Homo sapiens: one gene and its partners. The protein of the gene in region 1 interacts with the protein of each later gene in a pairwise test. Each region holds a gene or a part of one and is shown in the gene's direction. Other genes may lie near its edges. The genes, in order: PKP2, NDEL1, SPTA1 and CCDC120.

Evidence for each region.
Region 2: the proteins of PKP2 (region 1) and NDEL1 interact in binary tests that used the Homo sapiens proteins (3 or more experiments, as listed by UniProt).
Region 3: the proteins of PKP2 (region 1) and SPTA1 interact in binary tests that used the Homo sapiens proteins (3 or more experiments, as listed by UniProt).
Region 4: the proteins of PKP2 (region 1) and CCDC120 interact in binary tests that used the Homo sapiens proteins (3 or more experiments, as listed by UniProt).

The regions. Positions count from the first base shown.
Region 1 is NC_000012.12:32,872,775-32,879,800, reverse strand, and holds part of PKP2 (plakophilin-2), read left to right. Parts: intron 1-768; coding exon 769-881; intron 882-1,257; coding exon 1,258-1,955; intron 1,956-7,026. UniProt on the Homo sapiens protein: A component of desmosome cell-cell junctions which are required for positive regulation of cellular adhesion.
Region 2 is NC_000017.11:8,459,858-8,466,883, forward strand, and holds part of NDEL1 (nuclear distribution protein nudE-like 1), read left to right. Parts: intron 1-151; coding exon 152-303; intron 304-3,462; coding exon of another isoform or gene 3,463-3,497; intron 3,498-7,026. UniProt on the Homo sapiens protein: Required for organization of the cellular microtubule array and microtubule anchoring at the centrosome. May regulate microtubule organization at least in part by targeting the microtubule severing protein KATNA1 to the centrosome.
Region 3 is NC_000001.11:158,683,696-158,690,603, reverse strand, and holds the start of SPTA1 (spectrin alpha chain, erythrocytic 1), read left to right. Parts: upstream 1-3,888; 5' UTR 3,889-4,086; coding exon 4,087-4,110; intron 4,111-5,256; coding exon 5,257-5,496; intron 5,497-6,908.
Region 4 is NC_000023.11:49,061,980-49,069,005, forward strand, and holds part of CCDC120 (coiled-coil domain-containing protein 120), read left to right. Parts: 5' UTR 1-62; coding exon 63-125; exon of another isoform or gene 126-138; intron 139-255; coding exon 256-346; intron 347-488; coding exon 489-622; intron 623-1,881; coding exon 1,882-2,022; intron 2,023-2,390; coding exon 2,391-2,685; intron 2,686-3,056; coding exon 3,057-3,119; intron 3,120-3,474; coding exon 3,475-3,649; intron 3,650-3,767; coding exon 3,768-3,866; intron 3,867-5,196; coding exon 5,197-6,111; coding exon of another isoform or gene 6,112-6,133; exon of another isoform or gene 6,134-6,564; coding exon 6,565-6,679; 3' UTR 6,680-7,026. UniProt on the Homo sapiens protein: Centriolar protein required for centriole subdistal appendage assembly and microtubule anchoring in interphase cells. Together with CCDC68, cooperate with subdistal appendage components ODF2, NIN and CEP170 for hierarchical subdistal appendage assembly.

The DNA.
Region 1 (7,026 bases):
GTAGTGCAATGGCGCAATCTCAGCTTCACTGCAACCTCCACCTCCTGGGTTCAAGCGATTCTCCTGCCACAGCCTCCCGAATAGTTGGGATTACAGGTGCCTGCCACCACGCACAGCTAATTTTTTGTAGTTTTAGTAGAGAGGGGCTTTCACCATGTTGGCCAGGCTGCTCTTGAATGCCTGACCTCGGGTGATCCACCCACCTCTGCCTCTCAAAGTTCTGGGATTACAGGTGTAAGCCACCGTGCCCAGCCAAAACTTTCTTTTTGAGACAGAGTTTCACTTTTGTTGCCCAGGCTGGAGTGCAATTGTGTGATCTTGGCTCACTGCAACCTCTGTCTCCCGAGTTCAAGTGATTCTCCTGCCTCAGCCTCCTGAGTAGCTGGGATTACAGATGCCCGCCACTATGCCCAGCTAATTTTTGTATGTTTAGTAGAGATGGGTTTCGCCATGTTGGCCAGGCTGGTCTTGAACTCCTGACCTCAGGTGATCCACCTGCCTCTGCCTCCCAGAGTGCTGGGATAAGAGGCGTGCGCCACCACACCCAGCTGAAAAACTTTTGTAGAGAATGTTTTGATAACCTTTGATCACTTGCCATATCCCAGGGTGGTGTGAAACTAGCATTTAAAAACATTAACGTACGTTTAATACTTGTTCTTGGCCTTCATTACTTAAATTTAAAAGTTTAATACATCATTGTTATACAGTCTGTAAATATTAATTAGCCTACTTGTATTCTGAGTTATTTTAATATTTGCTTGATTGCAGGAAATCTTCACCGAACCAGCAGTGTTCCTGAGTATGTCTACAACCTACACTTGGTTGAAAATGATTTTGTTGGAGGCCGTTCCCCTGTTCCTAAAACCTATGACATGCTAAAGGTAGGATATCAAAGAATGTAACCCTAGTGATCAGATTACTACCATGAAAATATTTTCAAACTTCCTAAGATTATTTTTGAGTGTTTACTTTTCCCAAGTATTATCATTTCCTAAATGAGTTTTGAGAAAATTGATATTTATGAGGATACCATGGAAAACTAGGGATGTGAAACATTCTTACATCCTAGTGCAAATAAATATGACTCAAGTCAACCAAGTCTTATTTTCAAAAAGCCTTTACCCAGAAAGGGGCAAACTTCTCGTCATCTGATTCAGAGAAACGGACATGTTGGGTAATAGTCCCAGAGTAATTAGTCCTCAGCAAAGTTGAAATTTGATTTATGCCCCCTTTAAACTTTATTTCTCTCATGTGCAGGCTGGCACAACTGCCACTTATGAAGGTCGCTGGGGAAGAGGAACAGCACAGTACAGCTCCCAGAAGTCCGTGGAAGAAAGGTCCTTGAGGCATCCTCTGAGGAGACTGGAGATTTCTCCTGACAGCAGCCCGGAGAGGGCTCACTACACGCACAGCGATTACCAGTACAGCCAGAGAAGCCAGGCTGGGCACACCCTGCACCACCAAGAAAGCAGGCGGGCCGCCCTCCTAGTGCCACCGAGATATGCTCGTTCCGAGATCGTGGGGGTCAGCCGTGCTGGCACCACAAGCAGGCAGCGCCACTTTGACACATACCACAGACAGTACCAGCATGGCTCTGTTAGCGACACCGTTTTTGACAGCATCCCTGCCAACCCGGCCCTGCTCACGTACCCCAGGCCAGGGACCAGCCGCAGCATGGGCAACCTCTTGGAGAAGGAGAACTACCTGACGGCAGGGCTCACTGTCGGGCAGGTCAGGCCGCTGGTGCCCCTGCAGCCCGTCACTCAGAACAGGGCTTCCAGGTCCTCCTGGCATCAGAGCTCCTTCCACAGCACCCGCACGCTGAGGGAAGCTGGGCCCAGTGTCGCCGTGGATTCCAGCGGGAGGAGAGCGCACTTGACTGTCGGCCAGGCGGCCGCAGGGGGAAGTGGGAATCTGCTCACTGAGAGAAGCACTTTCACTGACTCCCAGCTGGGGTAAGTCCCCTCCTGACTCTGCAGTTCAGTCATTGCCAGCACATTCTGTTCCCACAGCCCTGACAGCATGAGCTGGCACTTCTGGGGCTTGAGAGAAGGGCTTCCAGAGATAAGTGATTAAAATAATGACTTTTCAGGCAGCTGCCTAATTGACAGATCAGCCTATTTACCTCAGGGACAGGGGCCAAGCTACCTGCTCACATGGCAGCTTTGTATGGAAATGTGACATTTAGTCCATCTGTTCCAGATTAGATGCTGGCTGAAGGGACCCTACCCCTCAGCCATATGAAAATCTGCTCTAAACTCCAAAGTAGGCCAAGAATTGGAGAATTGCATGCGTATTTTCTTCATCATCCCATGAAATAAAAGGAAAAAATGCTTATTCTTAGCACGAATGCCATTTGGATAACTATGACTGTAAAAAGAGCTAAGGAAAGATGGCTGACTTCTAGATGTCTTTTTTCTTCCTTTGGTACTTGGTACCTTTTAGATTTCTAGTGTCAGTGATTTGAAGGGGTATTCTTTTGGCAGTATTAAATTATTAAAATAACTGAATTTTTAAGTCATTCCTTTCCATTCCTATTTACTTTATAGCTTGACTAATTTAGTGTTTGGAACTTAACCCTTATTCAAGTTTAATGCCTGATCACAAATTTTATAAACTGTGCACGTTACTAAGAGAAAGATTGAGAAATGGATGGCTGATTAGATCAGTAACTCCTGCAATAATGATCTAACATCATTAGGCTAAAACATTAGATATGTTATTGTCATTTGATTGCTAAAGTTGTCTAATGATAGTTGTTACCTCTAAACATCCCTTCAAGTGAAATTGTACAGCATGCTCACTGACCAGGTAGCATCATTAATAAACTACTTCTCAAAATGATGAGGGCTAATCTAATCTTAACACAGGAAATATTTTTTATGATGTAAAATTCACCATGAGATTTCTAACATTTCTTATAGTAAGCAGACCTTAGGCAATATGAGCATACTTACAAAGAGGAAAAATAAGCCGGGAGCAGTGGCCCAGGCCTGTAATCCCAGCACTTTGGGATGCCCAGGCGAGCGAATCACTTGAGTTTAGGAGTTCAAGACCAGCCTGGGCAACATGATGAAACCCCATATCTACGAGCAATACAAATATTAGCTGGGTGTGGTTGTGTGCACGTGTGGTCCTAACTACTCGAGAGGCTGAGGCGGGAGGATTACTTGAGCCCAGGAGATGGAGGTTGCAGTGAGCCAAGATTTGTGCCACTGCACTCCAGCCTGGGGAACACAGTGAGACCTTGTCTCAAAAAAAAAAAGAGAAAGTGTATCAGGTCATTGTTTATGGAGGAAAAAGCTGATAAAGGCTTTTAAACAGGTAATTCAAAATTTATGGAATGCCTACCATAGCCTAGGATTTGTGATAGCCACAGTTTTAGCAAAATGATTTTAACAGTAACAAAATTATTATCTGACATCCTCCAACAACTGGCATTCTCTCCCTCCATCTCTGTGTCCCTTGCTTCTTGAACCACCCTGTCACTTCCCAGTCTCTCGTCAACCCACTGCAATATGATTTCAGTCCCCTCCATTCCACCTAAACAGTCTCCTGACAAATGTAGCAATGATGGCCTTATCTGCTACATCCTAAGCAGACACTATATTGAGTAATATAAGCACTGCTTATATTACTCAACCTGTGGGTGGTGTTTGAGACACCATGAAATTCTCTCATCCCTTGGTTTTCAGGGCACCAGCTTCCCCTGGTTTTCCACTCACCTCTCCAGCCATTCTTTGTTAGTGTTCTCTGCGTGCTCCCTTTCTGCCTGCTCAAAGAAGGCATCTTCAGTAACCCTTCTATTCCAAGTCTTGATGCTCTTCCAGAGAGGCTCTGTGTACCTCACTTTTATCCTTATGGTTCTCAAAGTTTTGTCTGCAATTCCATCCTTGATGCCAAATTCTGGACCTATATGAAAATGTAACAACCTCCTGGAAATTTCACACTCAGTATATCCTAAACTAAACTCATCATCTCCCTATCCTCAACTTCCACCCATCTCCTCCTGCTGTAGTCTACTATTTTCAAACCTGGAAGTCATTCTTATCTTCTCCCTCTGTAGTCACCTATCACCAAGCCATATTTTTCCTTCTATGATGGGTCTTGAATTTTTACCCTTCTTTCCATTTCCATTACACAGGGCTCTCTGCCTCTGGTCTTGCTCAGTCAGAACCGTTCTCTAGGACTGTCAGAATTATCTTTCCACATGTGATTGTTTATAACCCTTCCATAATTCCACTAAGTGTTCATGCTTTTAGGCATGACCTACAAGCCCCATTGTGTTTTCAGCTCTGCTTATCACTTCAGCCTCTTCTCCTTCTACTCTTCTCTGCCATTCATCACCACCATCCCCAAACATACCCACATACCAATACCCAAACCACCTGGAACCTCTTTACTTTCCTTAATGCAAGATATTTATCCATATTCATTCTCTCTCTCTTTCCTTCTTTTCCCCCACTCCACACCTTTACATATGCAGCTCTACTTTTGTCTGACTACTTATAATTCTGGATTTAGCTCAGATACCACCTATTTTCTGACCACTTCCTTCCCAGTCTAGCTTAGGTGCCCCAGATAGCAGCCTTGTGTGAGTGTCTCTATCAGAAAAATATATTGTGGCTATTCATTTGCTTATCTGTTCTCCCTCTGGACTTTGAGATTTTTGTGAATGCTCAATCATCTTTATATTCTCAGCACCCTAAAATGGAAGTAGGCCTATAGTAGGCACTGTATAAATATATGATGAGGCCAGCACAGTGGCTCACATCTGTAATCCTAGCACTTTGGGAGGCCCAGGCTGGAGGATCGCTTGAGCCCAGGAGTTTGAGACCAGCTTGGGCAAAATAGGGAGACCCCGAGACCCCACTTCTATTAAAGATAAACAACTTAGCCTGGCGTGATAGTGCCCACCTGTGGTCCCAGCTACTCCGGAGGCTGAAGTGGGAGGATTGCTTGAGCCAGGGAGGTTGAGGCTACAGTGAGCTGTGATTGTGCCACTGTACCCCAGCCTGGGCAACAGAATGAGATCTTCTTTCAAAAAATAAGTATATGGTGAAAGAGTGAAGGAATTAAAGGAAGGAGAAATGAAATATAAATTTTACTTTTTGCCATCTAGGTTCTTTTGTTGCTCAAATTCTAGAAGTATTAGTCATACTATTTTTGGATTATTGTTTTAATAGACAGGGTAAATTGTATTATAATATTTAATCATATTTCCAAGAGTAGAAGGAACACTTGGGGTCAAGAAATTTAAAAATAATGAGTAAGAAATCTCTTCCTGAGATTTCCCCAAATTCTAGAGAGTAGAAATCATAGAAATCAACTTTTTTTCTCTGATTATGAAAGGAAAATTTGGCTCTCTGTGAAAAGGAGAGGGAGCCAGACGTATTTTGTGTAATGAGGAAGATAGATGCCCAAGGTGGTGCCTGTGCCTGTCTGACCTCCCCCTTTCCTCTGCTGGGCTCCACGCCTCATTTCAGTTCCCCAGGCTGCTCCCTGGGACACCTGCCCTGAGACCACACACTGTGTTCTCTTTGGTCCCGCATTGTCAAACTTTGTCCAGCCCTTTTTTGGGGGGGATTTAAGTTTTTATGCCTAGTGAAACTCCCACATGTAAAGGAGTATTCTTTCATATATGTTGAATATTAACTGGACAAAACCATAAACCTGCATAATGACTTAAGGTATTAAACAATGGACCTGGCTTTCCAAAAGAAGAATGGCTGGTTAAACAGTTACTAATGCAGCTAAAAACTGAGACTTGGAGTGTGAGAGAGACAAACTGATGAAACCGATGTTCTAAATCAAACTGATGAAAAAGGTTTTTAAGAATCACCACAAAAAAAATTATAGATGAATTTTTCTAAAACCATGATTTATGACCAGTTGGAGGCTGATGGTTCTGCAAATGAGTAGTAGGATCTTCATAGGTCCTTCCCAGTAAGCATCACAAAAGATGAAAATGGGCCGGACGCGGTGGCTCACGCCTGTAATCCCAGCACTTTACGAGGCCGAGGTGGGCGGATCACTTGAGGTCAGGAGTTTGAGACCAGCCTGGCCAACATGGTGAAAACCCGTCTCTACTAAAAATACAAAAGTTAGCCAGGCATGGTGGTGGATGCCTGTTATCCCAGCTACTCAGGAGGCTGAGGCAGGAAAATTGCTTGAACCCAGGAGGCGGAGGTTGCAATGAGCTGGTATCGTGCCATTGCATTCCAGCCTGGGCGAAGGAGCAAGACTCAGTCTCCAAAATAATAATTAAATAAATAAAAGATGAAAATTGAGTGAGATGTATGATGGTCTAGGAGAGGAGCAGTGAAAAATAGGATATATCATCAAGTGCTAGGTTGTGTGATACATATTAGTGTCTACAGAAATTTAAAGAACACAAGAGCAGGGCCGGGCATGGTGGCTCACACCTGTAATCCCAGCACTTTGGGAGGCTGAGGCTGGCAGATTGCTGGAGCCCAGGAATTTGAAACCAGCCTGGGCAACATGGCAAAACCCCACTTCTACAAAGTACAAGAATTAGCTGGGCATGGTGGTGCATGCCTGTAGCCCCAACTACTCAGGAGGCTGAGGCAACAGAATCACTTGAGCCTGGGAGGTCCAGGCTGCAGTCAGCCATGATCGTGACACTGCACTCCAGCCTGGGCAACAGAGTGAGACCCTGTCTCAAAGCAAAACAAACAAAACCCACAAGAGCATCGTGCTCTGGGATTAGTTGAGGGAGACTAAGCAGAGAGGGTGGATCTTCTCTAGGATTGACAGTCAAATTTGTGACCAAGAGCACTGCAGAGCAGAAAACAGATCATATTGACTTCCCTCCACGTCCTCTTAATTACTACCTGCTTTAGTTCTTTAATTTTTCATCTCTTTCAACTCTACCTTTTTTTTCCATTTCCATTTTTAACAGCCCAGTTCAAGGCTTTTTTGCCTCAGCTGAACCTTTTATAGTGCCCTCAACGCTGTCTCTCTTTCAAGAAACACATATCCATTCCAGAGTCATCTTTCCAAAGC
Region 2 (7,026 bases), on another chromosome or scaffold:
TTAGAAAGTTGATTGATTATGGCTGAACTAACCACCATTATCAACTGAGATGAGTAAGTTTTGAGGCTTGAAATAGAAATGGTTTGAAATGCAAATTTTTATGTGCAGCTACTGTTTTGACAACCATATCATTCCTCCTTCTTTTTTGTAGGCTTTAGAATCCAAATTAGCAGCTTGCAGGAATTTTGCAAAGGACCAAGCATCACGAAAATCCTATATTTCAGGGAATGTTAACTGTGGGGTGCTGAATGGCAATGGCACAAAGTTCTCTCGATCAGGGCATACATCTTTCTTCGACAAAGGGTAAGTCCTGAATGTTTTAAGTGATAATTTTTTGAGTAGTAAAGTGACAGGTTAGTAAGTGAGCATAATGAAGCCTTGAAAAGGTAAACTCAGCTTGACAAACCTTCCCGAAGCCTGTTATCATTCTAATCTTAGGTGACATGACGTCTGTTGTTGTCCTCTAGTCCCCATGGAGTCTGTTGCCCCAGGAACCCTGAATCTGAGGCTTCTGTCCTGGGAAGCAGACTCTTGAAAGGCAGCAGTGTGAGGCTCTGGTGAGTCAAAATGACTGCGATAAGGTCCCTGTTCTCCAGGTGCTTACAGGCTGGCAGACTTGGAAATATTTTTTTGGGGTAGAAGACAGCATCACAATTAAATATATGCAAACTCTACAACAGACATCCCCTGTGAGAATTTTAGAGAAATATAAAGCCCTGAAGTACTTAGGCACTGGATCAAATACAGTTTAGGAGATACAACTTTTGTATAAAGTTAAGGCTTTTTTGAAGATTGAAATAAAATTGTTTTAAGGTTGAAGCATCCTTAATGCAAAAAATTTCAGTTAGTATGGAAGTATATGAACTAAAAAGTCATGGTTTCCTGCCTTCACACTGTTTCTGCATTCCTTACAGTTATTCCAAGGCATGCCAAATCATATTTTTATGCATCTGCTCTAAGTTGTTTGTAACACAGTTACGGGATTATACTTTAAATATTGCTTTGCAGTGTGCCTATCATGACTTCTATTGCCATTATCTTTCCATGTCATGTATATTATTCTACCTCAATTTACTTATTTATTTTTAAATACTACATGGTAATACGTGGTTGTATGAGTATGCCTTAATATAGGTCACTATTAGGACCCGTGGCCTGGGATGCTCACGGTGTTGCCTAAGGTAGTTGTTATTGAAACAGCCAACAGGCACCCGTGATCCTTGGCTACTGTCTCTGCTTTGAGTCAAAGAGGTAATTCTTGCTTGTTTTTCTCTGAAAGCAGAGCAGGTACAACTCTAGAAACGCTCACAATCTCTGAAAGCAGCTGGGATTTTCTGCCGTCCTCAATAATTATGGCACATGTGTAAAGGAGCAGATTCGACACACGGTGCACTCTGAATAGGCTCTTATCCTTGCAGTGGAGTGTTTTGGTTGATCTCTGTCCCTGATTTTACCCTGGAGAATATACATTTCATTAAGGATTTTGTATTAAAAGCACATCCTAAAACATCACTATACAAATTAGAACTTTATTCTTTCTTAAAAAATTTGTTTAAATAATTTTTGTTTTCTTTTGAAGAGATGGGGGTCTCACTCTGTTGCCTAGGCTGATCTCAAACTCCTGGGCTCAAGTGATCCTCCTGCCTCAGCCTCCCAAAGTGCTGGGCTTGCCGCCGCGCCCAGCTGAAATCAGAACTTTATTCTAACCATTGGGTTTCCTCGGGTGGAGTAAACATAAAATTGATTTTCCTCAGGCTTAGGAGTTTCAGGCAGACTTGCGGCAGCCCTTGTTTTTATAGTGGAATGATAAATGGAATGACTGGATGGTTTTACATGAGCGTAGCCATTTCCCCTGAATGATATGGAGAACTTTTAGGGTAGTCTTCATAAATGTTGGAAGCAGTGCCTAATTATTTTTCCCTACAACTTATAATGATCCTCTACTAGAGTAGTTATTAGTTTCTCCTTGGAATCGTATTTCTTGATGGGCCGCAGGTGCCTTTCATGAGAGCAGGTGTGAATCATAAATGGATAGGTCGGACAGGTGCCTGTGCGTGTGGAAGCCCTGAAGAACAGTCACGAGGAGGGAAGGATAACACTGTCTGTTCAGGGTCGCTACTCCTGCCCGCCACTTGCCTCCCAAGACAGAGCACCAGGGCAGGGATTGCCAAGAGGTGAGCCTGTTCTGAGGGAGATGTGGGGACCTTAGGGTGAGCTGAAGCCAGGAACAGGCCTTGGGCACACTGACTGCACCTCTGCCCCTTGAGAGCATCCGAGATGTAAGTGTAGGCTTTACTTCCTGAGCTGAACCCGGAAATGTGCTGTGCTTCCCAATCGGAACAGTTGCAGATACTGAGTTTTGGTTTTAAATGGTAGACATTTTACATTGTGCCTTTTCTATTAAGAAATATGCTTTTGTGGGCTGGCTGTTGTGTGAGTGTTTAGCTTATATGATAAGTGGATTGTGTATGCGCACTGAAATATTAACCTACTGTTGCTGGAGTTGTCTTTCTAGTTGCTGTATTCCTGAGGATAACTCTTTTGTGGGTTTTGCTGTGTTTTCACTTTCTTGCCGCTTTGCTTCGATTCCGGCTTTTGGCCTGTCTGGCTTTTTACCTCTGGCTTTTCTTCTGCCAACCTGTTGACCAGATAAAAACCAAGATGTTGTGTAGCAGCCGCAAAAGGAAGGGCAGGATATTCCACTTCCCAGGTCCATTATACACTCTGGCAGGTTAAAAACACAAAAGCCTGTCTGTGTAGAAGTGGAGAAGTATGGCTTGTAGTTTCAGCATGAGAAAAGTGCCCCATTTGAAAAAGCCCTCCACTGCAGAACCTGCCTGCCCTCCCTCTCACTCCTGAGGAGTCTGTAGCACCGTGGTGATGGCTCACTAGTGCTGCCAGAAACCTGCGGCAGGATTGTTTGGGGGAGAGACATCATCAAAGTAGGTTTGTGTGTGTGTGCATGTGTGCGGGTGTACATGTGTTCACCTTCCCACCCGCTGAAACTTCAGATGCAGTGAAGCCTTCTCACATAAAACAATATACCTTAACTGGGCGTATTGCTCTGTGGGATTCAAAAGTATTTTGTAAATTCTGGTCACTTGAGGGCTTCTTGGAATCAGGTTTTTGTCTAGTCTGTGAGCACTTCTGCCAGTTCCTGAAACATGGGCTGCCGTGCCTGCTTCCCAGGTGCCGAGCTGTTTCCTTCAACCATGGTCACCCTTTGTCTCACCATCTGAAAGGACACACATTTCATGTGGAGTGTGGTCGCTTGGAGTCTCTCAAAAACACTCTTTTTTTTCCCATAACTTTATGTAGTTTCTTAGGTAACATGTGCTCTATTTTTGTAAGCCACTCTGAGTTCTTTTGGGCTGTGTGTAGGTGGGCATGGACTAATTTTAGGGCGTGATGTGGAAATAGTATTCGTATTACTGTTTAATATGTTCTCCTTTCTTTTATTAGGCAAGAAAAAGTCATATTTCCCACGTTGTTCATGGGTAACTGAATTTGTTTGCTGTGCTCTTTTTCATTCTTTCTTAATCCTGGTGTGTGGTGGAAGACACATTAACAATCTGGTTTTACTAACTGCATGGGGCTGACTCAGCTTTAACCAACTTACAGCCCATCAGTGAACTTTCACGGTCCTGTTCGACTTGACTGTATGCCGTTATTAGTTCAGCTGTGAGAAACAAGAACAAATTAGTTGCAGTGGTCCTGGGGTGGCTGGGAGTAGCATGCCAGGTGGCACGCCTGAGATGGGCTAGGGCGCTGTAGTGTTGATTTCAGAGTCTGGCGATGGGGGTTTGAGGTCACTGTCAGGCCCTGGGATCACCTTTGACTGTCTTCCTGGGACTGGGGGTCTTCCCGTTACCCAGTTGCTTCTGTTTTCTCAAGTCAGGCACCAGTGTGAGCATTCCCTCACCTCTGCGCTCACGCATGGAGTCCCCAGTTAAAATGGAATGGTACATGGGGACGTGTGTAAGATCTGCCTTACATTTCAGAACTGCTTTGCAGTTTGCAGAGCCTGGGCTGAGAACTGGAGCAGGCTGGAGCTGCTCTGAGCCCACACTCATCCACTGAAATAGGAGACTCAGGTGTGGCGTGTGCCTGCCTGCAGGCTCTTCTGGATAGCTTGAGCCCACCCTCCTGCCCTCTCCAGTGTCCTGATCCTTGCTGCTTTGACAGAGTTAATGTTTCCATCCTTCATCTCAGCTGCTTTGGATTTATTGTCCTGAGTAGCTTCTAAGTGTGCCTTGGCTCTTCCCCCTTTTCACTTCTTCCACTGACATTTTACAACTGACCTTAGCACTTTTTCTTAGCTGGATTCTCTATATTTCAGCCTCCTTAACTAGTCTGTGGTGGTAAGATCATGAAATTTTATAGCTCTGGAACCTTTTTTTTACATATATGATTCCCAGATCTGTATCTTCAAGCCTGCCCCATCACTCTTCCTTCAGTCCTGTCTTGTGCACTGGGACATTGCCCTGTGGCTCTTTGCTGCTCCCTGAAACTGAATCTGTTGAATATAGAGTCTCTTCTCTTGCAAATCTTTTCCCCATGCACAGCTTTGCAGGCCTCTGAAGGACTTCACTAGACCTGTCATCCCATCTAGAAGGCCAGCTTTCTTCTCTCTCTGTTCTTTAACTTTCTACTTTTTGAGTCAGGAGAGAGGCGCTAGGTGAGACCCTGGTGGATTGATGTTCCCTCTCTACTCCACCCACCTTCACATTAAGCGTTCCATTTCTGCCCATGTAGAAATTTACCGGTTCTCTCTTTATAGTCTGGGCTGCACCACTTACTTTTCCCATTAGAGCCGGCCTGCATTGGAGTGCCGAAGTGGTTGCTTCTGAGGGCTGCTAGGTGGCCTCTGACCAGGAGGAGACTAGAAAAGGGTCCTGGCCTGGGCATCTGGAGGCAGCTGTGGCCCCGACTTCCCCATCAGTGGCTCACTAGGTGAGCCTAGGCTAATGGCTGGACCTTCTCTTGCTTTGGTTGTCTTGGCAGTGGAACAGTGGGATGAACCTGTTGTTCCTTACGGTGCACTTGAAAATGCCAGAATCCCATCCTCAACCTGCTTGAGGAGCCATCTCCTAGTTGCTGCTTTTGTACACCCCCGTGGCCCAGGTGCCAGATTCTTCTTGGCATCCAATGGTGCTCCCTTTCTGCTGGGTTCCGGGCACTGTCTGCAGTACAGGTTTAGGGGCTTGCCTGCCACTGTGATGTGTGAGGCCAGGAATCTGAGGTTCACACGTGCTGAGAGCTGCAGGCATTTGTGGGGCCTGCCTGGTTGTCCCTGAGGTTTCTAGGAGAAGCAGGTGTCAGGGACTCTGGGACTAGCCAGACAGATGGAGCCTATTATATGAGGGCTACCGTGGCAAATAGGATATGGCCTTGGCCCCAGAAGAGGCACAGGCCTGTGACCTTGGGAGAGTGGGAAGGATGATTTCAAACTTGCAAATGTGTTGAAGCTCAAAAATCAGACCTAACCCAGTGAGGAAAGAGACAATCTGGCTGTTTGTCGTCGAAGTAGGACAGTGTGCAACAGGGAGAAATGACATTTGTCAGAGCCTTTCTCCTGGGGCTCTTGGTCTCTGTATGCGTGGTTGGAATTTAAACTCCACATATGTACTCTGAGTTTAGTTTCTTTAGACATGAACTTTGTTTCTTCCAAGTAGGCAGGGACTATTTGTCAAGTCTCTGCATGCCTGTTTGTCTGTGAGGTTATCCTCACCCCGTCAGTGTACGAAACAGCTGTCTCTGCAGGGAGTGTGTGTCGGCATTTTTTTTTTTTAAGGAGAACCTCTCTCCATGAGTCTGTATTTAGCTCCCTGGAGCCGTCTGATGAGTAGGTGGGGGCAGTAGTGGGCAGGTGTGGTGCAGTGTGGCCCCTTGTCGTAGTTGGCTTTATCTCCCAAATTGCTAGTGGGACAAATTTTCCTAGGAAGCGTTTCAAGGTGGAAAGGCTGAAGTGGCTCCTGAGAGAGGTTCCAGGCTGCACACTCCCTCCCCCTCTTGCTGCTTCCTGTGGCTGCGCTGCATGGTGCGTGAGGGGGATGCTTGGGGGGCTCCCTGCATCGCTGGGCTCTGGGTGCGTGATGGGGACGCTGGGGGGCTCCCTGTGTCGCTGGGCTCCGGGTGCTGGGTCCTGGCTGCAGGCTATTGGGTTGGGCTGGGCTGTCTGCACACGAGTCTGCGTTGAAAAGCCTACTCATCTGGCGTTGCTTGCTAAACAATTTTTAAAAGGTTATTTTTCTCCACCTTATTAAGATATTCGTGTATTAATACATTATATTTGGAAAATGTAAGGAGATTTGGAAAATGATTAAAAAAGGATAAAGTAGTAAACAAAATTCACCCACAGCCCAGAGGGAAGAAAAGTAACGATTCTTAAATTTTCTTTTTATGATATATATGATCCTATGTACATATATGTTGGTGTGTGTATATATATATGTGTATGCGTATATATAATGTATGTATATATACATTTATTTATACACACTCCCCCTCTGTCCCTGCTTTGTGGATTTAGCTGCATGGATAGTAATGTCTATCTAAGGGGCTATAGTCTAGAATCTAGAATATATACTATTTGCTTTTTTTTCTTTCATATCATTGAATCTACAGAGTTTGGTAACCTGCATCTTTTTCCACTTAGTGTTAGTTACATTCTGAATATTTTCCCATGCTATTAAAAAACTTGTGGAATGTGTTTTTAATGGCTGTGCAATATCTTATTGTTCAGTTGTACCATTATTTATTTAACTAGTTCCCTATTGCCAGGCATTTAGACCTGCTTTATGGGGAAAGAATCAGGACTGTGGCTTCCGTGGCCAGTGTGCGGCAGTTGCCAAACAGGTCATGTGGTCCTGGTTCCCCAGGATTCCCAAAGGCTCAATTCTCTAACCAGCTGGTGCTTTCCAGGCAGCCAGTGCCCCTTGGGCCATCAGGACCCTACAGCCTGCGAGGAATAGTTTTAGAAAGCAGATTAATTTCCTATTGTGTGTGAGTGATTTTAAATGAGTT
Region 3 (6,908 bases), on another chromosome or scaffold:
CTGTAATCCCAGCTACTAGGGGGGCTGAGTCAGGAGGATCACTTGCACCTGAGAGGCAGAGATTGCAGTGAAGTGGGATCGTGCCACTGCACTCCAGCCTGGGCAACAGAGTGAGACTCCAACTCAAAAAACAAAACAAAACAAAACAAAACAAAACAAAACAAAAACCAACCAACCAAACAAACAAACACTATGATTCTTATACACTTTTTTTTCTAATGTGGTGAGAAACAACATGAGATCTATCCTCTTAACACATTTTGAAGTGTACAATACTGTATTGTTAACACTTATACAATGTGTTGTACAGCACAGCTCTAGAATTCAATCATCTTTCATGGATAAAACTTCATACCTACTTAATACCTATTTTTCCTTCCCTCAGCCTCTGACAAGCACTATTTACTCTGTTTCTATGAGTTGGACTATTTTATATACTTCCTATAAGTGGTATCATGCAGTATTTGTCCTTCTGTGACTGGCTTATTTCACTTAGCATAATTTCATCAAGGTTCACTCATGTTGTCATATGTGACAGGATTCCATTTGTTATTATGACTGAATTATTTCAATTGTATGTACATGCCACTTTCATCAGTCATAGACATTTCAATTGTTTCCATTTCTTGACTTTTGTTAATAGTGCTGAGATAAACATAAAAGTGCAAAAGTGCAAATACCTCCTTACAATCCTGATTTTAATTCTTTTGGCTGTATACCCAGAAGTGGGACTGCTAGATTGTATGATAGGTCTATTTTTCGTTTTTAGGCAATGCTACACTGTTTTCCACAGTGGCTGCACCATTTTACATTTCTATCAACAGTGTACAATTGTTCCAACTTCTTCATATTTTCAGCAATACTTATTTTTCTATTCCTTTGAGAGTAGCCATCCTAACAGATGTGAGATAATATCTCAGTATCGCTTTGATTTGCATTTTCCTGATAGTGATGTTGAGCACGTTTTCTTATACCTGTTAGCCAATTGTATGTCTTCTTTGGAAAATCATCTGTTCAAGTCCTTTGCTCATTTTCTAATTTTCGTTTTTGTTATAGATTTGAAGAAGCTCCTTGTATATTTTGGATTTTAACCTCTTGTTAGATGTATGCAAATATTTTCTTCCATTCCATAAGAGAACTTTTTTTATTGCTTATTGTTTTCTTTGCTGTGCAGAAGATGTTTAGTTTGATGTAGTCCAATTTGTTTATTTTTGCTTTTGTTGCATTTGTTTCTGGTACCGTATCCAAGAAGTACTTGGCAAGACCAAACAGATCACTTTGCTCTGATGCCTGAGCAGCAGCTGAGGCAAGCTGTTCAGTGCTGATTAAACTACTATGTAAAGTACAAACCCTCCCTGAGGTGATAACCATGGCCAGATACAACAGCCCTCCAAATTATCCCCATCCTTTTAAAACTGTATAAAATACTAAATATATAATTCTTATTATATATGATAAAAGTCATAAAGCTTTTTCCTTGTGTTTTTTTTTTTCCAGGAGTTTTACAGTTTCAGGTTGTAATTTAAGTCTTTAATCCCATTTGAGTTGATTTTTGTACATAACATAAGGGTCCAATTTCATTTTTTTATGTGAATATGCAATTTTTCCAACACATATGTTGAAAAGACACTTTTATTTCCTTATGATCAGTTCTGCTGATTGGGCCATGCTATTTCTTTTTTTTTAAAATAAACATTATAGAATTAGTAAGCATTTTTACTTTCTTTTTATTGTGATGATTTTACTTTAGTTCTAGGACACATATGAAGAACATGCAGGTTTGTTACATAGGTATACACATGCCATGGTGGTTTGCTGCACCCATCAACCCGTCATCTACATTAGGTATTTCTCCTAATGCTATCCCTCCCCTATCCCACCACCCCCGCAACAGGCTTCAGGGTGTGATGTTTCCCTCCCTGTGTCCATGTGTTCTCATTGTTCAACTCCCACTTATGAGTGAAAACATGTGGTGTTTGGTTTTCTGTCCTTGTGATAGTTTGTGGAGAATGATGGTTTTCAGCTTCATCCATATCCCTGCAAAGGACATGAACTCATCCTTTTTTATGGCTGCATAGTATTCCATAGTGTATAGGTACCACATTTTCTTTATCCAGTCTTTCACTGATAGGCATTCAGGTTGGTTCCAAAGGGCTAATATCCAGAATCTACAAGGAACTTAAACAAATTTACAGGAAAAAAACAAATGACCCCATCAAAAAGTGAGCAAAGGATATGAATAGACACTTCTCAAAAGAAGATATTTATGCAGTCAGCAAACATATGAAAAAAAGCTCATCATAACTGGTCATTAGAGAAATGCAAATCAAAACCACAATGAGATACCATCTCATGCCAGTTAGAATGGCGATCATTAAAAAGTCAGGAAACAGCAGATGCTGGAGACAATGTGGAGAAATAGGAATGCTTTTACACAGTTGGTGGGAGTGTAAGTTAGTTCAACCATTGTGGAAGACAGTGTGGCAATTCCTCAAGGATCTAGAACCATAAATACCATTTGACCCAGCAATCCCATTACTGGCTATATACCCAAAGGATTATAAATCATTCTACTATAAAAACACATGCACACATATGTATATTGTGGCACTATTCACAATGGGCCATACTATTTCTTTGGTCACAAGGTTATCACATGTTTGGCATTCTTGCTAAGATGATTCTGGAACAGGGAAACAGAACAAATAATGTTGATGGACTAAGAGAAGATTGACTAAAAAAATAAGGAGCAGAGTGCCATGATAATCATATTGATATGGATTTGACTATTTAAATACTTTCAAACCAAATCACCATAGAATGAAACTTTGTTTTTTAGGGACTGTTTTCTCACATAAAGACGGGTATGATAATACCTGCCTCACAGAATTTTTAAAGATTAGAAATTAATGTAAATTGATCATGTTAATATATAAATATTTCATAGATGTTGATTCTTTTCTCTTAAAGATAAAATAATTTCCTCTCCTTATCCCAACTTCAGACAAATATTCCTCAGTGCATGTGTTATAGTGCAGTCTCTAAAATTATGTTCCTGCCTTTACTACTAAATTTGACTTGAATATAATGAAACTATATGGAAAAGTAAAGTAATCCAGACTTTCAAGAAGAGAATGTAAAGGACTCTCAGTTTTTCTATGTGAGATCCAAGAACAGGGGAAACCACAAATGTAGAATCAAAATCTTCTCTTGTAGATCATGGAAGTTAGATTATTCAAGCTGCATTTACACTGGAATGAAGTTTGGCATGGATAGCCCCACTGGCTTGTAGAAAGGTCTAAGAGCATCCCACTATTTTCTTTTTGCTTGTTTGTTTCATTTTTGTAAGTTAGTCTAAAATAACTATGCCTATGGAAAAAGTCTACCTCTTTTTGTTCTCCATTAAAATTAATACATACAGTAGGATGATTTATACCATATATATCAGAAGTCAGCCATATTTTCAACTTTTTTGTGACATCATTGGTTTGTCAAATAAGGTATCCTAATTTTTGTTTTACAAAATATTAATGAACACATCATATAACTTTTTTTGTTCCTTCCATTTAAATGATTAAGAGTACAACTAAATCAGATTTTTAAAGACCAAATTGTTGAGGTTAGGAATAAAATCTTATTTTGTGAAAGACTCTCTAGAAAAAGCCAGGATAATTCGTTGACTTAAAGACTGTGAAAAATCTGCAGTTGAGTTGGATGAAGTTGTTGAGCTGTATTTCCTATAAATATATGGGGTTTTTTTTCTAATTTTTCATCCAAAAACCTTACTTTCATTTTTTAAGTCTTATTGAGTAACTTTGAAAGCCAGAGCCTCCCAAAACTGCTGAGTCACCCAGTATCTGTAAAACTTAGCAGTTGCCTCAGCTGAGTATGTCTTCTAAAGATAATGTCGATTGTGTATGGCTGATGGGATTCTAGGACCAAGCAAGAGGTTTTTTTTTTTCCCCCACATACTTAACGTTTCTATATTTCTATTTGAATTCGACTGGACAGTTCCATTTGAATTATTTCTCTCTCTCTCTCTCTCTGACACATTTTATCTTGCCAGGTTCTAAACCTTTAGGAAAAATGGAGCAATTTCCAAAGGAAACCGTAAGTACATATTTCTCTTCCATGCAATTTGTCATTAATATTATTAGGAAAGATGTTTCCTTTAAACTTTCTATACTATCTTTCCCAGGAACATTAATAATTATTTGGCTTTTAACAAATAGATAATTTTACTTTTAACTATTTTTTGTGAACAATAACCTTGAGCTTATGTCTGTGCAGCACCAAGACCCAGTAATGACTTAAGTCGGTTCCCAGAGAGAATAAGTAGGGAGATTGAAGCTAAATAACACCTAGTAACAACGTGAGTCTCCATGTAATGATCTAATTCTATAGCCATGCCAGTAATGGCAATTCACAGAGTAGCAATTATACTTAGGAGGAATAATGGGAGATTAAAATTTAAACTCTATATTAAACATTTTGGCTGAGGTAAGCTAGGGAAAATGGTATCCATATCCAGAAGAATGAAGGTGAACCCTATGGTGATTTTGCTGGATATTGTCACAAACAGGTTGGCTCCCACTCTGGGAAAAGGATACTTATATATTGTTTTAGAGTAAAAGTTTTTATATTTCAAAAATAAATTGCAGACATGCTAATAATTTGAAATTTGTGACAATTGGGCAGAAGATAGCTGAACTTTTGATTTATAGTGTTTGTGAGTAAAGCAAGTAAAGAGTAAATATATGAGATTTATTTTTAAGTATGAAGGAAACAAAATTTTCAAACTGTTGCATATATCATTAACTAAATTAATTGCAAGCCATTCTTAATTATTTATTAAATTAAGTTAAAAATAATAAGCACTTCTCAACACCTTTTTAGCCCTTGAAAGCAATAACATTATATTTCTTTTTATCTATCTGAAATTATGTGATTTTGCTGATTTAAACTTGCTCCATGATCAGTCCAATATAATTATATCTATAGAACTTAAATGCTAGCACAAATTTATGTAAAAAGTGAGGAGAGTCTTCTGGATAATCAAGAATTTTTAACCTAAACAGAAGCTATGTCTGGTTAAAAATTACGTAAATATACTACAGCTCTTCTGACAATAGTCCCTAGAAACTTCAGGATATCTGAATATAGGTCCAACATGAGTAAACACCTTGACACATATAAGCGGGGCAACATGTTAAATATTTGAGAACTAGCAAGTAACAGAATCTTTTTAACTTGCAGGTTGTGGAGAGCAGTGGGCCAAAGGTTTTGGAAACAGCAGAAGAGATCCAGGAGAGGCGTCAGGAAGTGTTGACTCGGTATCAAAGTTTCAAGGAGCGGGTCGCTGAGAGGGGTCAGAAGCTTGAGGATTCCTATCACTTACAAGTTTTCAAGCGAGATGCAGATGATCTGGGGAAGTGGATCATGGAGAAAGTCAATATCTTAACCGATAAGAGCTATGAAGACCCAACTAATATACAGGTCACTCAGTTCTCTTGATTGCCTCAGAGCAGACCCTAAGATCTCTAGAGAAGGAAATAGGTTTTTCTTTATGTTAATGTTAATGGGTATGTGTGGGTACAATTAGATTCCGTTTAGAAACAAAAATAAGTCAGTGGAGTGGGAAGTTAAAGAAATAAATTAATAGAAAATCTAAAAGTGCATTTTCCCTTATGAAGTTGGAGAGGTGAGACTGAGAAAATAAGAATCAAACAAAAAGCAGCAGTTTTTCAGTTGTTGAAAGCACAGAACTGTTTTTTACAATGAACTTCCATTCAGAATATACATTTTTTAATCATTAACCAAGGATATTGCTTATTGATAAGGGCATAGGATACTTTACATATTTTCATGGTGAAGCATTCATCAATGCCAAAAGTAAAAAATTACATCAATTTTTTTTCAGATCCAGCACAAATATTATGGTAATGTAAGTGTATATCTGGTTAATTGTAGTGGGAGTGATGTAATGGAAAAATTAGACTGTCTGTTAGAAACAGTAATTCTGCCTCTAAATAGTCCATGTCTTCATCTTCATAAACATCGGGGTGTTATTTGCAAAGGAGATTTATTCTGTATAGAATTTGATGGTTACAATACTCATCTGAAATTGACCTACAGGCAAAACAGCAACTGCAAATTCAAGAAATTTCTGACAAACCATGTGATTTTTGATATTTTGGGACATTAAGAAGGGAAATAGGGTGAAGAGTCATCAATGCTTCTGAAGCAACTGTCCTCCACTCTTCTCAGAAATATAAGAGTTAACCAGGTTAACTAAAATCCAATTTAGTTAACCTGGTTAACTCAATTGCTATTCATGGCTCTTAAGTTTTTCCTAAAATGTTGTTCATGGGTCTCAAGTTCTAATGAGAGGTTTCAGTAGAAGTTTGGTGAAAGCTCCTACGCGTTTCTGATCACCTAAAATTATAGCATGTGATACCTGTTCTCTACTCTTCTCAGAGAGATGAGTTAACCAGAGTTTTTTTTTTTTCTTCCCTAAATTGCTATTCATGGCTCTTAACTTCAAAAGAGAGGTTTCAGTAGAAGAAATTTGGTGAAAGTGCCTACCCCTTTCTATTCACCTAAAATTATAGCATGTGGTGTTGTCATAATCAGAAGCAATTGATGTTGGACAGGAAACACCTAGAACAAGAGCAAAATAATGTGCTATATTGAATGGATCAATTTATAGATTACAAGAACAGGCACAGCATGCAAAAAAAACTCTCAATTTTTTTTTTTAAAAACCATTATTATAACTATCATCTTTCTCATTGTGCTCTACTTCCAAAAAAAAATCAGTTATTCCTCTTTTCTGATGAGGAAGGACACTGTGTGTTACACTCTTTTATTCCTATGGCAGTCTATTGAGCCTTTAAAATAAGGCTCGG
Region 4 (7,026 bases), on another chromosome or scaffold:
CATGGGCCTCTGAGGAGGCGTTGTAAGTCCGCCCAGCTCCCCACTTGCTGTGCTCTCACTCAATGCGAAGGGAACCAAGGTACCAGGGCCAAGTGGGTCCAGACATCCACACGGATTCTGAAAGGGCAGGTCAAGCAGGCACGTGGGGCCCAGGTTACCCCTTATTCCCCGCTGTGGCATGGGAAGCTGGGAAGGGCTGGGGGTTGGGGTATCATGGGATGTGCTTCCTTAACGGCTCCTTTGTGTCACTGCCAGACTTTGTCCAGCCATCAGCCACGGCCTCTCGACAGCACCAAGATGGAAGTCAAAGGTCAGCTGATCAGCTCTCCTACCTTCAATGCCCCAGGTCGGTGGCTGCTTCCCCTCCTGCTGCCTCCTCCCCTGCTCTGAATCACCACCTGCTTGCTCGGGAAGAGTTGGTCCCTTGCCCCACAGCTGCTCCAGAATGCCCTGGCTGTCCCACTGATCTTTGCTCCCTCTGTGTCCAGCTGCCCTGTTCGGAGAGGCTGCCCCCCAGGTGAAGTCAGAGCGTCTGCGGGGGCTGCTTGACCGGCAGCGGACCCTGCAGGAGGCCCTGAGCCTGAAACTTCAGGAGCTCCGCAAAGTGTGTCTCCAGGAGGCGGTGAGGGCCTGGCCCTAGGGGTATCAGGCGGGGAGGTTGGGAGGAGGTGAGGAGCTGGGGCCCCTAGGTAGACAGACTTGGGTGGCAATTCCTCAACCACTTGTCTTGGCTGTAGATTCCCTGTCACCTACTTTCTCCTCAAAGCTCAGCTTAGATGTGTTAGAATGAATGAAATAGGCTGGGCGCTGTGGCTCACGCCTGTAATCCCAGCACTTTGGGAGGCCGAGGCAGGTGGATCACCTGAGGTCGGGAGTTCCAGACCAGCCTGACCAACATGGAGAAATCCCGTCTCTACTAAAAATGCAAAATTAGGCTGGGCGCGGTGGCTCACGCCTGTAATCCCAGCACTTTGGGAGGCCGAGGTGGGCGGAACACGATGTCAGGAGATCGAGACCATCCTGGCTAACACGGTGTAACCCCGTCTCTACTAAAAATACAAAAAATTAGTCAGGCGTGGTGGCGGGCACCTATAGTTCCAGCTACTCGGGAGGCTGAGGCAGGAGAATGGCATGAACCCGGGAGGCGGAGCTTGCAGTGAGCCCAGATTGCGCCACTGCACTCCAGCCTGGGCGACAGAGCAAGACTCTGTCTCAAAAAAAAAAAAAAAAAGCAAAATTAGCTGGGTGTGGTGATCCTAGCAACTTGGGAGGCTGAGGCAGGAGAATCGCTTAAACCCTGGAGGTGGAGGTTGCGGTGAGCTGAGATTGCGCCATTGCACTCCAGCCTGGGCAACAAGAGCAAAACTCCACCTCAAAAAAAAAAAATATGGTAATACAGGCCCACTGTTGACAATTTCAAATCCAACAAACCTCAGAAAACAGGTTCTGTCCAAAATTTGGCAGCACAGTCTGACCTGAACTGGCACAGGCTGATCTGTAGTTTCAGTTTACCCCTCTTACTGTGAATGCCCACAGTGTGCCGGAAATAATACTACAGCTCAGACCACGCAGCCACAGCCCCTGAAGTGAGTTATATAATACTTAGGATCTCGATGGTATCACCTTTATAAAAACAAAACAATTCTGGATTCCAAAGCAGGTCTCCCTGCCTCCCATGCCCACCACCCCAGGGGTTTGGGCCACTGAGGTTTGGGCACACCTGCCTAGTGGAGATACTGGTAGGAGGGAGGGGAGTATCGTGCGTGGTTGCTGAGCAGGGCCAGGCTCCTGGTAGGACTTCTGTAGCTTCTGGGATCATTAATGCTTCACCCCATCCTTCCAACTAACCCTTGGTAGTCTCTGACCCCTGCCTCCCACCAGGAGCTGACTGGCCAGCTGCCCCCTGAGTGCCCACTAGAGCCTGGTGAACGGCCCCAGTTGGTCCGCCGGCGGCCCCCCACAGCCCGCGCCTACCCTCCACCGCACCCCAACCAAGCACACCACTCCTTGTGCCCTGCTGAGGTGAGCAGATGGGTGTGGAGAGCAAGAGGGTGGGAAGAGGGGACAGGTACAGAGGAGTAGCCAGGAGGAAGGTGTGGGGAGGGGGCTTGTGGCCAGGTGAGGGAGAGGCTAAGATGAGAAGGAAAAGGGCTTCTGGAGTTAGTTTCCTGTGATGAGGGAGGATGCTGGTCCCTAACTGTCAGGACAGGCCTCCAACCCTAAGGAAGATGAACAGACCCAGCCCTTCACCAAGAGAGGCCCTGACACGCCCCCTCCCCGGGGTGAATAGGTCTGAATAGGCTGCAGGAAGTGCAGGCCAGCCTCTACTGGGTTTGGCCCCGCCAGGTCCCTGTTCCTGGCCATTTCCAACATTTGGGTGGGCCCAACAGGAGCTGGCTCTTGAGGCCCTGGAACGCGAGGTGTCAGTGCAACAGCAGATCGCGGCGGCCGCCCGCCGCCTGGCCTTGGCCCCTGATCTGAGCACCGAGCAGCGCCGGCGCCGGCGCCAGGTCCAGGCAGATGCACTGAGGAGGCTGCATGAGCTAGAGGAGCAGCTCAGGGATGTCCGGGCCCGCCTTGGCCTCCCAGTGCTCCCGCTGCCCCAGCCACTGCCACTGTCCACGGGGTCAGTGATCACCACCCAGGGAGTCTGCCTGGGCATGCGTCTTGCTCAGCTCAGCCAAGGTGAGCATCCCCTGGTGAGGGTGGGAGAGTGGACACTGGCAAATGGACGTGGTAGGGCTGGGATGGGTGACTGGCCGGTGAAAACCGGGAGGTAGGCACAACTCAAGTGGCCCAACCCGTGAGAAGAGTTGTGACAAACTGGCTTACCGGAAAGGACAAACTGTGGGGGACTGATGAATATCTGCCAGGACAGTCAGGAACCAAACTGGGGTGGTCTTGGGCTCTGGTAAAAGCAGATTCTTGGGACAGGAACAGGATGAGGCGGAAACTGGCCAGAAGGTGGCCCAAGTAGAGGTGCCCACCCAGTGGTGTAAGGGGGCAGCACCCAGGCCTGGGAGTGAGAGGCCCACTTCTCCCCCTCTCACCTGTAGAGGACGTAGTTCTGCACTCAGAGAGCAGCTCCCTCTCAGAGTCTGGGGCCAGCCATGACAACGGTGAGGACTCCTATCCCCCAAACCTGCCCCCGACTCCTACGTCCCTTTAGCCCATCCCCTTTATTCATCCGACCACATCCTGCATGATCAGCCCATCCTTTGATGCCCAGCCCCTCCTGTGCTGCTTCAGCTTCTCCTTAGCCATGCTCCATCTTCCTATGGGTCCCCCATCTTCTTAGCCTCACCCCACCCCAGCCCCACAGCCCCAGAACCTACTTGTCAGCCTTAGTTCCTCCTCAGCCTGCTTAACCTGTCCCAGCACTTTGCCCCTCCCCATGGCCTTGCCCCCCAGCCTGTCCTGCCCCCTCTGGGCCCCCCTCATTGAATTCTATCCCACTTGCTCTCTTCCACTCAGAGGAGCCCCATGGCTGCTTCTCTCTGGCCGAGCGCCCCTCACCACCCAAGGCTTGGGACCAGCTGCGGGCAGTATCTGGGGGGAGCCCTGAGCGGCGAACCCCATGGAAACCACCTCCATCAGATCTTTATGGGGATCTGAAGAGCCGGCGGAACTCTGTGGCCAGCCCCACCAGGTGAGAATGAGCCCCTCCTCCCCTCCGCAGGAGCTGGGAATGGGATAGCAAGCCTGGGCTGGCAGAGGGTCTGCTGGTGGGTACAGTCTCTAACCTAGGCCTGCCTGTCTCTGTCTAGCCCCACACGCTCGCTGCCCAGGAGTGCCTCCAGTTTTGAGGGGCGAAGTGTGCCTGCCACCCCTGTCCTCACCCGGGGCGCTGGCCCCCAGCTCTGCAAGTAAGGGGAATCTGAGGGTGGGCTGGAGGATCAGAGGGGAGGGAACCATTAGTTCTCACTGGAAGCTTGAGGACAACATTATCAAAAGGTGGGATGGCTGGGCGCGGTGGCTCACGCTTGTAATCCCAGCACTTTCGGAGGCCGAGGCGGGCGGGTTACTTGAGGTCAGGGGTTCAAGACCAGCCTGACCAACATGGTGAAACCCTGTCTCTACTAAAAATACAAAAATTAGCTGGGCATGGTGGGGCATGCCTGTAATCCCAGCTACTTCGGAGGCTGAGGCAGGAGAATCGCTTGAACCCGGGAGGCGGAGGTTGCAGTGAGCTGAGATCAACATCGTGCCATTGCACTCCAGCCTGGGCGACAAGAGCGAAACTCCGTCTCAAAACAAACAAAAAAACAAAAGGTGTGGGACATGGGAGGCTGGGCATTAAAGGTGAGCAGGCATCTCGGTGGATAATGGGGTAGGAGTCAGTCTCCTCATTTGTGAAATGGAAATAATAATATCTGCCTTTGAAAGACATGGACATAATAAGTTCTGGTTAACATATACTGAGTGCCTGCCATCTGCTAGGAATTAGTGTTTTACGTGGCATCAACTCATTTAATCATAATCAGATCCCTGTGAGGTGGGTGCTATTGTTATTCCCATTTTATAGATGAGGCAAGTGAGGCACAGAAAGGTTAAGTAACTTGTTAGTAAACTGAAGTCCTGGAGTTTGAGCCCAGGCAAGTTTTACTCTAGAGTCCATGCTTTTAACCACTGTCCTCTTCTGCTTCTTAAACAGAGTGCCTACTTTCCCCAGGCTCTGAACAAAACCAAGTCCCCTTCCTTGTGGGGCTTGCATTCTGTGAACGGTGGCTGTTGGGATGGTAGCTTTGGGTGGTTCATACGTATGGTCGGATAGAGAATTCAGGCAGGGTTTTACATGTGAGCCCTAAGGCCTAGGACTTAATCCTGGAGGCCGTGCGAGCCATGAGAACGGCCTTAGCAGGGGGAGGGGTCAGCTGGATTAGGAACAGCCCCCTGCCCGGCATCTACTCTGCTAGCCTTTCCTCTGAGTCCCTACACAGATTTACACCTCCCTTGGAGCTAACAGTGCCAGGCCTCCCCCACGCATTTCTACCCCTGACCGCCTAGCCTAGGATAGAACCTCAGCTGCCCTTTACATGTCACTACCTGCCACCTTTATACACACAGCTTCCAACCTTGGGCCCATTTGGAGATGTGAAAGTGAAGGCTTAGAAAGGGCTGGGGTAGGGAGGGCACTGCACGCCTTCTGCCTGATTTTTCTGACCCTATTCCCATGACCCTCGCCTCTCACCCCAGACCTGAAGGCCTTCATTCTCGTCAGTGGTCCGGCAGCCAGGACTCCCAGATGGGCTTCCCCCGGGCGGACCCTGCCTCCGATCGCGCCTCCCTCTTCGTAGCTCGCACCCGCCGCAGCAACAGTTCTGAGGCCCTGCTGGTGGACCGGGCCGCTGGTGGGGGAGCTGGCTCCCCGCCTGCCCCTCTGGCTCCCTCTGCCTCTGGCCCCCCAGTCTGCAAGAGCAGTGAGGTGCTGTATGAGCGCCCCCAACCAACCCCTGCCTTCTCCTCCCGCACAGCAGGCCCCCCAGACCCTCCCCGGGCCGCCCGGCCTAGCTCAGCTGCCCCTGCCTCCCGAGGTGCCCCCCGGCTCCCACCTGTGTGTGGAGACTTCCTCTTGGACTATTCCTTGGACCGGGGCCTGCCCCGCAGTGGCGGTGGAACAGGCTGGGGGGAGCTGCCGCCTGCAGCTGAGGTCCCAGGACCCCTCTCCCGCCGGGATGGGCTCCTCACCATGCTCCCCGGCCCACCACCTGTGTATGCAGCTGACAGCAACAGCCCCCTCCTCCGCACCAAGGACCCCCACACCCGTGCCACCCGCACTAAGCCCTGTGGCCTGCCCCCAGAGGCTGCCGAAGGCCCTGAGGTGCATCCAAACCCTCTGCTGTGGATGCCCCCACCCACCCGTATCCCCTCGGCTGGTGAACGCAGTGGCCACAAGAACCTGGCTCTGGAGGGGCTGCGGGACTGGTACATCCGGAACTCGGGACTGGCTGCGGGGCCCCAGCGCCGGCCTGTGCTCCCTTCCGTGGGCCCGCCACACCCACCCTTCCTCCATGCCCGCTGCTATGAGGTGGGCCAGGCGCTGTACGGGGCCCCCAGCCAGGCGCCACTCCCACACTCGAGGAGTTTCACGGCGCCCCCTGTCTCTGGCAGGTATGGGGGGTGCTTTTACTGATGGGTAGGGGTCTCGTAAGGCAGATGGCGAAGATATCCAGGCCAGGGAGTGGCTAGTCATGATAGCTAATGAATTGGACCATGAGGAAACTAGCTGCTGTGATGGCACAGGGTCACTCTACTGCACATGACCTGCATTAGTCCATGGGGTCCTGGTGGAGGGGATCTTGGGCACTGGTAGCAGCAATTCTTTATCAAGTTATAGGCTGAAGATGAGCCTTGAAGCCAGGGTGCCGGGAGGAAGGGACATCTCATGCCCCTTGCTGTTTTCTTCCTTTTTTCTCCATGCCCCAGAGCCTGAAAGTGCTGTCCTGTGCCTGCCTCCACCTCTTTAACGAGCCTCTTTTCCTTTCTTTTTCTGTGTCTTGTCTGTCTTTTCTTCTTCTTGTCTTCCCCGCCCTGTCCTCCGGATTCCTGCTACCCCTTCTAAAGATACTACGCGGACTTCCTGTATCCCCCGGAGCTGAGCGCTCGTTTAAGTGACCTGACGCTAGAGGGGGAGCAGTCCTCCAGTTCTGACACCCAGACCCCGGGGACACTGGTCTGACCCCTTCTGATATGTCCCTTGTTGGCCTGGGCACGATTCCAATCTGGGGAGCACACAGCTGACCTCGCTGGGCCCTGGGGTGTGGTTGCTCTCAGTCCTGAGCAGAGTGCGCCAACCTAATCTTCCAAGGCCCCTGGCTCCCCGTAGGCCCAGGAAGGTGTCTGACACCCTGCTTCTTCTCTCACACTGTGCTGGGGACTGGGGGCCCTCAGCTAGCTTAAAAGAGGGGGGATGATGTCATGGGGACCCCAAGCCCCTTCCTCCATTTATGTTTACAGTTGTGACTTAGGTATTCACTGTCTTCCTCCAACACTAGGCGTTTTACAAAAGGGAAACTGTGATCTCAT